2 linked regions of the Homo sapiens genome follow. The protein of the gene in region 1 purifies or fractionates together with the protein of each later gene. This does not show direct contact. Each region holds a gene or a part of one and is shown on either strand. Other genes may lie near its edges.

What was found. Proteins that work in one complex are often made in the same cells at the same time.
Region 2: the proteins of ANKRD30A (region 1) and SCLT1 purify together in Homo sapiens (affinity purification with mass spectrometry; one large-scale study listed by BioGRID and IntAct). This does not show direct contact.

The regions. Positions count from the first base shown.
Region 1 is NC_000010.11:37,124,431-37,128,397, reverse strand, and holds the start of ANKRD30A (ankyrin repeat domain-containing protein 30A), read right to left. Parts: upstream 2,801-3,967; 5' UTR 2,611-2,800; coding exon 2,390-2,610; intron 1-2,389.
Region 2 is NC_000004.12:128,883,493-128,887,539, forward strand, and holds the end of SCLT1 (sodium channel and clathrin linker 1), read right to left. Parts: intron 1,048-4,047; coding exon 985-1,047; 3' UTR 501-984; downstream 1-500. UniProt on the Homo sapiens protein: Adapter protein that links SCN10A to clathrin. Regulates SCN10A channel activity, possibly by promoting channel internalization.

The sequences.
Region 1 (3,967 bases):
ATACTAATCCACAAAAAATAAAAATTAAAACATAGAAAGTGAGAAACTATTTTTATCTGTGCAAATTTCACATTGCTGATCTTCCCAAAAATTATTTTATTAACAATAAACTTTTACTAATAGCATTGTACATGCTCAATGCATAAATCAAAGATAATAAAAAGGAAAAACATTTTATATTAAAACAAATGTCCTCAAATAACAAATTTTATATTTTGTACATAATTTCAGATAACACAAGACCATAGTCTATGTGTATGTATAGTCAAACTGAACTTTACCCTCAGTTGGTACACCAAAATACATTTTCAAATGTCAACATACTTCTGTATATATTTCTACCTTGAGTGGTCAACTATTATCCCATGCTGTAAACTCACTGAAATGTATTTATAAAAGCCATTAAATGGATTCTTTTTAATACACTGATATTTTAAGAAGTGCTCAGAAAAGAAATTGCATGTATGTTTCATTATTTTCTAAAAATATTTTAGTATAATAGAATTGATCACTAATGGGCATATACAATTTTTTAAATATGGTACTTACCATCAAATTGTCTATTTGAAAAGTCATCTGCAACTTAAACTTTAAGGAGTACTATAAATATCACTGCTTTTTATCCTCACAAACTTTGTGGATAGAAAACAGTATTTGATTCCTTTTTTAACTTAAATGCCTTCTCTAACCAGGAACACTAAATATTATTTCCTGTGTGCATAGGTCAGTTGCAGATCTTAAAAAAGGACTTTGCCCAATTTTTAGATCTGCAATTTAGATCTCTAATTTAAATTTCCCAATTTTAAATTAGAGGGTTTTTTGTTGATTTGAGTGAATTCTCTATAAAGCGAAGATTTTTAAATCTAATATGTATACACACACACACATACATATGTAGTAAATATTTTTACAAGTATGCTGCCCTTTATTTTTTCTCATATGCAGGGTGACTTAATTTCTGTTTTACTAAATTGCCCTTCAGAGTGCTTGCTTCTGAGCTTCTTAAAAAGGTTTTGTCAAGATAAAAATGTATCTGTGTAAATAGGCATTTATATTTTCTTCCGGTATTTTTATCATTTTGTACATTAAAAACTTTTAATCTATATTCCATCAGGAACTTATTTTGTGGCACAAAAATCTAGTTTTCTCCAAAAAGCAGGCATTTCACTTAGGAAACTAATTCTTTTCCTGCTAGTATAAAGTGTGACCATTACCAAGTTCTAAATTCTTACATATATTTGGGTGTTTGTGGATTTTCTATTCTGTTGTATTTATTTACCTGTCTTTTCAGCTGTTAGCGAACAATTTGTGATTTTTTTTTTTTTTTTTTTTTTTTTTTTTTTTTTTTTTTGAGACAGAGTTTCACTCTATCACCTAGGCTGAATTGCAGTGGTGGGATCTCGGCTCTCTGCAATCTCCGCCTACCGGGTTCAAGCGATTCTCCCGCCTCAGCCTCCCCAGTAGCTGGGATTACAGGCACCCGACATCATGCCCGGCTAATTTTTGTATTTTTGTAGAGACGGCGTTTCACCATATTGGCCAGGCTGATCTTGAACTCCTGACCTCAGATGATCCACCTGCCTCCGCAGCCCAAAGTGTTGGGATCACAGGCGTGAGCCACCACTCCCGGCTCATCTTGTGCAAATTAATACCACATTTTGATATCTAGAAGGGCAAGACTTTTTTACTCCATTACAAAATATTTAAAATGTCATCACAATAGTAAAAGACAGCCTGTGTAATTTAAAAAATGTTAAAACGTTGATAACTTTATTTGGTTTATGTAAAACTGATAAAGAACTCGCATCCTGAGAAAAATGAGTCTTCTTAAATTCAAGAACATAAACCATCTTCCCACCTCGAAGTTTCCTTCTAAGGTCCCTCAGCAAAGAACATATTTACATAGACATTCATTGATATCAAAATGGATATTGGACTCTATCCAGATAATTTTTAGCCAAGAAGTACATATATTATGGGAATTATTTCATTACGCACCATTTCATAATGTATCTAACATTATCTTTTAAAACCTGTACATTAAATGTAAAACCCTGTATGTACTTAATTTTGTGAGTTAAATCACTTTAAAATTCTCTACACAGTCCTCTGTGAGAGGAAGTGGGAGTGAAGGAGAAAGCAGCTAAAGTTTGGGGTTGATTTTAAGGTGGCATGGGCCCTCCGCCCTGCAGGGACCCCGCATCCCAAGCCTGGGGGCCTGCCCAGGAAGAAGGCCTAGACCCGAGGGCCCAGGATGGCTGCCCCGCTGCCCGTTACTCCTCCACCTGCTCCCTTCTTCCCCAGGCCCCCCAGCCCCCGACTCTGAAGGGGCGATCCTCCCACCGCCCCCACCTCCTCCTGCAGCCCCGGCTCAGGCAGGGCCTGGTACCTCTTCTGGGCGTCTTGTATATTAAGGTTGATGGTCTTCTTCCTCTTTGTCATCTTCTCCAGCTTCCGGACTTGTCCCCGGGAGGCAGCTTTATGGATCTTTCTAAGATCCCCAGAGTGGACGATGTAGGAGTCGTTGCTGGTATAGACTAGCTGGCTGAAAGGGCTCGGGCGCTCCGGGCCCGGCACGACCTTGACAGCGGCGGCAGAGATCTCCTCCATGGCTGCGGCCACCTGCTAGAGAGTGCCCGCGCCTCCCGATCGCCCTTCCCAGCCACCACCCCCCACCCCTCCCCAATCGCCCTCGCCCTTCTTCAGTCCACGCACCGCCTCGATACCCGTAAAAAGTTCTGTGTTCGCCAAGCTCTTGCACACTCAGGCCTCTCTCAGTAGAATCGCGCTGAGCAGAGCCGTTAGCCAGCAGCGCATGCGCAGCTCAGCAGGCTGAGGAGACACGCGCCCTGGCCGCGTTCTCCGGGCACCGCGTGCAGGTGGCAACTGCCGCTGAGGCACTGCGAGGCTGGCGGGCCTCCCTGGAGCGGAAAGTGGGGGGCGCCATGCCACATGGCCCGCTTGACATAGCCGCCCCTGGCCCCTCCTCGACCTGCGATCCAGGAGCCGGACCCTGATGCTGGGCACGGTGCAGCCTCTTGGGTGGCACTGAGTGTCGGTTCCCGCCCTCCTGCAGCCAGGGACCCACCCCCTGACTTAGGCGCCCTGGAGGCTTCTGGCCCAAGGATCCGCGCTGCTGGTGACGCTGACAGGGTCGAGGTTGCAGCCCCTGCTGCCGCGTGCCATGTTCAGGTGGGAGCTGCACCTGAGTCCACGGTGGAGGCTAATCTTGTATTTTTTTAGTAGAGACGGGGTTTCTCCATGTTGGTGAGGCCGGTCTGGAACTCTTAGGCTCAAGCGATCTGCCCAGGATCGCAAAGTCCTGATCCCAGGACTTCGGAAGGCTGAGCGGGGCAGATCGCTTGACCCTAGGAGTTCCAGAACTGCCTGACCAACATGGAGAAATCCTGTCTCTACTAAAAAAAAAAAAAAAAAAAATACAAAATTAGCCGGGCATGGTGGCACATCCCTGTAATACCAGCTATTCAGGAGGCTGAGGCAGGGAAATGGCTTGGACCCGGGAGGCGGAGGTTTCAGTGAGCCGCCCGTGGCCCCTCCTCGACCTGCGATCCAGGAGCTGGACCCTGGCGCTGGGCACCGTGCAGCCTCCGCGGTGGCACTGAGTGTCCGTTCCCGCCCTCCTGCAGCCGGGGACCCACCCCCTGACTTAGGCGCCCTAGAGGCTTCTGGCCCATGGATCCGCGCTGCTGGTGACGCTGACAGGGTCGGGGGCGAGCCACCACGCCAGGCTGATGTATTCCCTTCTGATGAATAAATTGACTGGGTGCCAGTTTATCACTAGAAAAGATGGATTACCTCACTAAACCACCTTCCAAACCTCTCCTCTCGGTTTCCTGCATTGGTTACTTTTTTTTTTTTTTTTTGAGACGGAGTCTCGCTCTGTTGCCCAGGCTGTAGTGCAAGGGCGCCATCTCGGCTCACTGCAACCTCTGCCTCCCGGGTTCAA
Region 2 (4,047 bases), on another chromosome or scaffold:
CAGGTATACCTATGTAACAAACCTGCATGTTCTGCACATTTACCCTAGAACTTAAAATATGATAATAATAATAAAAAAAGATTCCTATGACTATCTTAACTGTTAGCACCATTACTAAATTTCTGACTGATGGCTGAATATCTACACGTGAATGTTTTCATGTCACCTTCAACTCAAACTCATTATCTTTTATCTGGACAACTGCAGCAGTCTCCTAATTGGTTATCCAGATGCAAACCTCTCTGCTTTAATCAACAGAAACCAGGGTGCGCTAAGTTCAAACCAGAGAATAGGAACATGTATCTATGAAGATCAATAGGACTTCAATAGTTCAATGCCATGCAGTCTTAGCACCTAAGATCTCCATTTGATTAGTATTGCTTTAAGTAACATGTAAAAGACACCTTCCAAATTCTTAAATATCAAGTTCCATAAATACTGAAAACCGTAAGTTAAAAATGAAGCACTACAATCATACATTAAAATACATGACAGCATCATTTTAGAAAGTGCACAATTTATTACATTTATGAGTTCATAATAAAATGGATACTTAGGAACTTTAAAAATGAGTTAGAAGTAACAATTAGATGTAAAATTCTCAAATCTTGGAAACTGAAATATTAAATTCTAGAATTTTCTTAAAAACTCTTTCTTATGAAAGAGAAATTTGCATAGTTTGAAAATTATTATGTCCTTTCAAGGGAAAAAGGAGGAATTAAAAAACAGACACATTGATGAAGGCAATGAGTTCTTCTCAGCTGGTTTATTCTCCACTGAAGCTCAATATAGGATTATATTTTCTTTACTTACAGGAAGTGGTCACTGCTCTGTTTTCCAATAACCCTCAAAACAGAACAACAATGCTTACGCGAAATAACACAAGCCTTAACTATTATACTTTGCAGGCTTTACCATTTCAATACACTTCTAGTCCAACTGCTTTCCCAACTCTAAAGTTCTGTGAGTGAACTATGAATATTTTTAAATATTTTCCAGATTCATCAGGGAGGCTGCTTTTCTTCTCTGCACTGTAATCACACTGAGCTGCAATTAAAATAAACAATCGGTAAGTAGTTACTTTTTCTGTGGAAAATCTTAGATTAATACAAAGAAGAATGCATCACAACCTATAAGTACTGAAATGGTCTTATTGGAAAGGGTTTTGTAAATGATCTTTTTCTTTTTGAGGCAATCTTGCTCTGTTGCCCAGGCTGGAGTACAGTGGTACAATCACAGCTCAATGTAGCCTTGACCTCCCAGGATCAAGTGATCCTTCTACTTCAGCCTCTTCAGTAGCCACTACACCTGGTTAATTTTAATTTTTAATTTTTTTCAGAGACAGGGTCTCACTACGTTGCCCAGACCAGCCTTGAACTCTTGGGCTCAAGCAATCCACCCACCTTGGTCTCAAAGTACTGGGATTATAGGTGTAAGCCACTGTGCCCAGTCAGTGATCATTTTAAAATTAATTTCTATTTTACTCTTGAAACTTTAAAATGTCTATTAATTTAGAGAAATGCAGGTCAAATAAGACATTCTATAGCTCAGGGTGATACGCTTAGAATTGTAAAACATATTCCAGATGGATGAAAAACATCTACATAAAAGTTAATCAGGAAAGTTTCTAAAACACAAACTAATGTAAGCCAACACAATGCAAGGCTGATAATAAAGTGATGATAGATTATAACAAGTCTAATAGAAAAATAATCTTTAAATGTTAGTAGGAATTAATAACATATACACATAGTAAAAAAAGATCTAACAGTACAAAACGGTAGACAGCATAAAGGAAGTCTCGTTCCCATTGCTGTCTTTCATTCCATAGACCCCTCTCCAGATACAACCACTATTTCCAGTTTTAAAGTATGTTTCCGTAAATATTTTAAATGAGAATATATGTATTTCTTCATTCCTTTAATTTAAAAAATGATGAAAGTATTATAAACACTTTTCATCTTGTGTTTTTCTTCTAAATAATCTACCTTAGAAATAGCTCTATATTAGGCCTACTATACTTTATTCCTCTTAATAGCTGCAAACTGTTCCTCTGTGTGAATACTCCATATAACCAGTCTGCTATTGTTGGGTATTTGTATGGTTTTTAATCTTTTAAAAGGAGAGACAATGCTTCAATCAGTATTTTTATATGTTTGCTTCCTGGCAAAAATGTTTCCAGGTGCAAGTGTGGGTCAAAGGTTATATACATTTACAGTTTTTGAAAGATACTGCCAAACTGTGCTCCGGAGACTGTACCAACATGTGCTTATATCAATAATATGTGAAAGTGCCAGCACAATGCATTTCCAAACTTCATGATCTGATAGGTAAAAAATGATGTGATTACAGTTTAAATTTGTATTTGTCTTATAGGTGAGGATGAACATCTTTTTAAATGTTTAAAAGCCATCTGTCCTTCTTTCTCCATAAACTTCCTTTATATATTTGTCTACCGGACTGTGGCATTTTTTGAAAACTTAGGTATCCTTTATATGTGTTTAGGGCATTAGCCTTTTGTCATATATGGTACAAATATTTTTCTCGGTTTGTCACTGACTTTATGACTTTTTCTGATACAGAAATTTGAAACTGTGATTATATTTATTAATTTTTTTCTTAGCTTCTAGGTTTTGTGTTCTTGCATTGAAAGGCTTCACCACGCTGATTTAAAAAACTCATATGTTAACAGAACACAGTATGGCATTCAACTATTTAGAGTGATACACTTAGAATGGATGAATAACGTGTAGAGAAAGTTAATCAGAAAAGCACATTTAGAGCACAGTGCATCAGCACGATTCAGGGCTTGTATTGAACCAGTAACACGATGCTGCACTGCACTATGGTAAGTGTGATGTGTCAGAGATGATAATAATTTTTAAATTTTCTTCATTTTGTTAATATGCATTTAGTAGGATATTATTTCTAATAGCACTTTTTCAGTTTTTATAGGAAAATTAGAAGATTCAGAGAGGGTAAAGATAAAAATTAAAAAAATAAAATGTACGTCTTACAAACAAAGTTGATCACTTGGACTCATTTAAAACAGAAAAAATATTAACTCCAGGGAAGAAATTCCTTTTTGGGTAAGGGAAAAGTGCTGAATAATTACCTTCCATCTTCAAATAAGAACAGAATGGAAGGAGAAAAGCTTAGGGAAAGATTTGTTACAGAACAATTCGTGAAGTGGTTACTGACAAAACATTTTAAAAAGGTTAGTCAAAAGAACGGTGGAATCTTTGCCATTGGAGAGTTTAAACAACAGAAGAAACATCAGTACTAGACTGTTTAGGTTTAATTTTTTCAGGGGAGAAACTAAACTAGATGCTAACTGGTTATATAATTAATGTCCTGTAATCGTTCCCTTTTTACTATAGAACTCAAGGTAGTTGATTTTCGTAGACGTTTTCTTTGCCATTTGCCTTAAAAAAGGTAAACGTGAAGCTTTAAGGATTATGATACAGAAATTTAATTTCTTACATATCTGTCTAAATATCTACTTACCACTATAGGAAATGCTTTACATGTGTTAATTCTTTTGATCCTTTAATAACCGTATGAGGGAGGTATTATTATCCTATATTAAACATGAGGAAACTGAGGCTTAGAGAAGTTGAAATTGCCCAAAGTCACAAGCTTTTACTTAATGGCACTAAATGGCACTAAGCGATTTGCCTGACACCAAAACACATACTTGCCAGATACTGTCCAGTGCACCTAACTTCTGTTACCTTATAACCTAAATACATTCTTGCATAATTAGCTAACCCATTAGTTAATTCATAACTTCATAAGACATAAAAATTATTTGAAAAGGCTGTAATTACTTTCAAGAGGGAGAGTAACAGAAGGATAAATTATTATTAAATTTTCTTTAAGTGGCATGCCATGTTCATAACAGAAGTAGATTCAAAAAAATCTGTAAATATCATGAACATAAACTGAATTCAGCAAGCAGAGTGGCTTTACTATGTATAAAATGCTGTAATAGTTAAGAATAATATTAATTTTGATTGAAATAATACATTTATAAGCAAATATAAT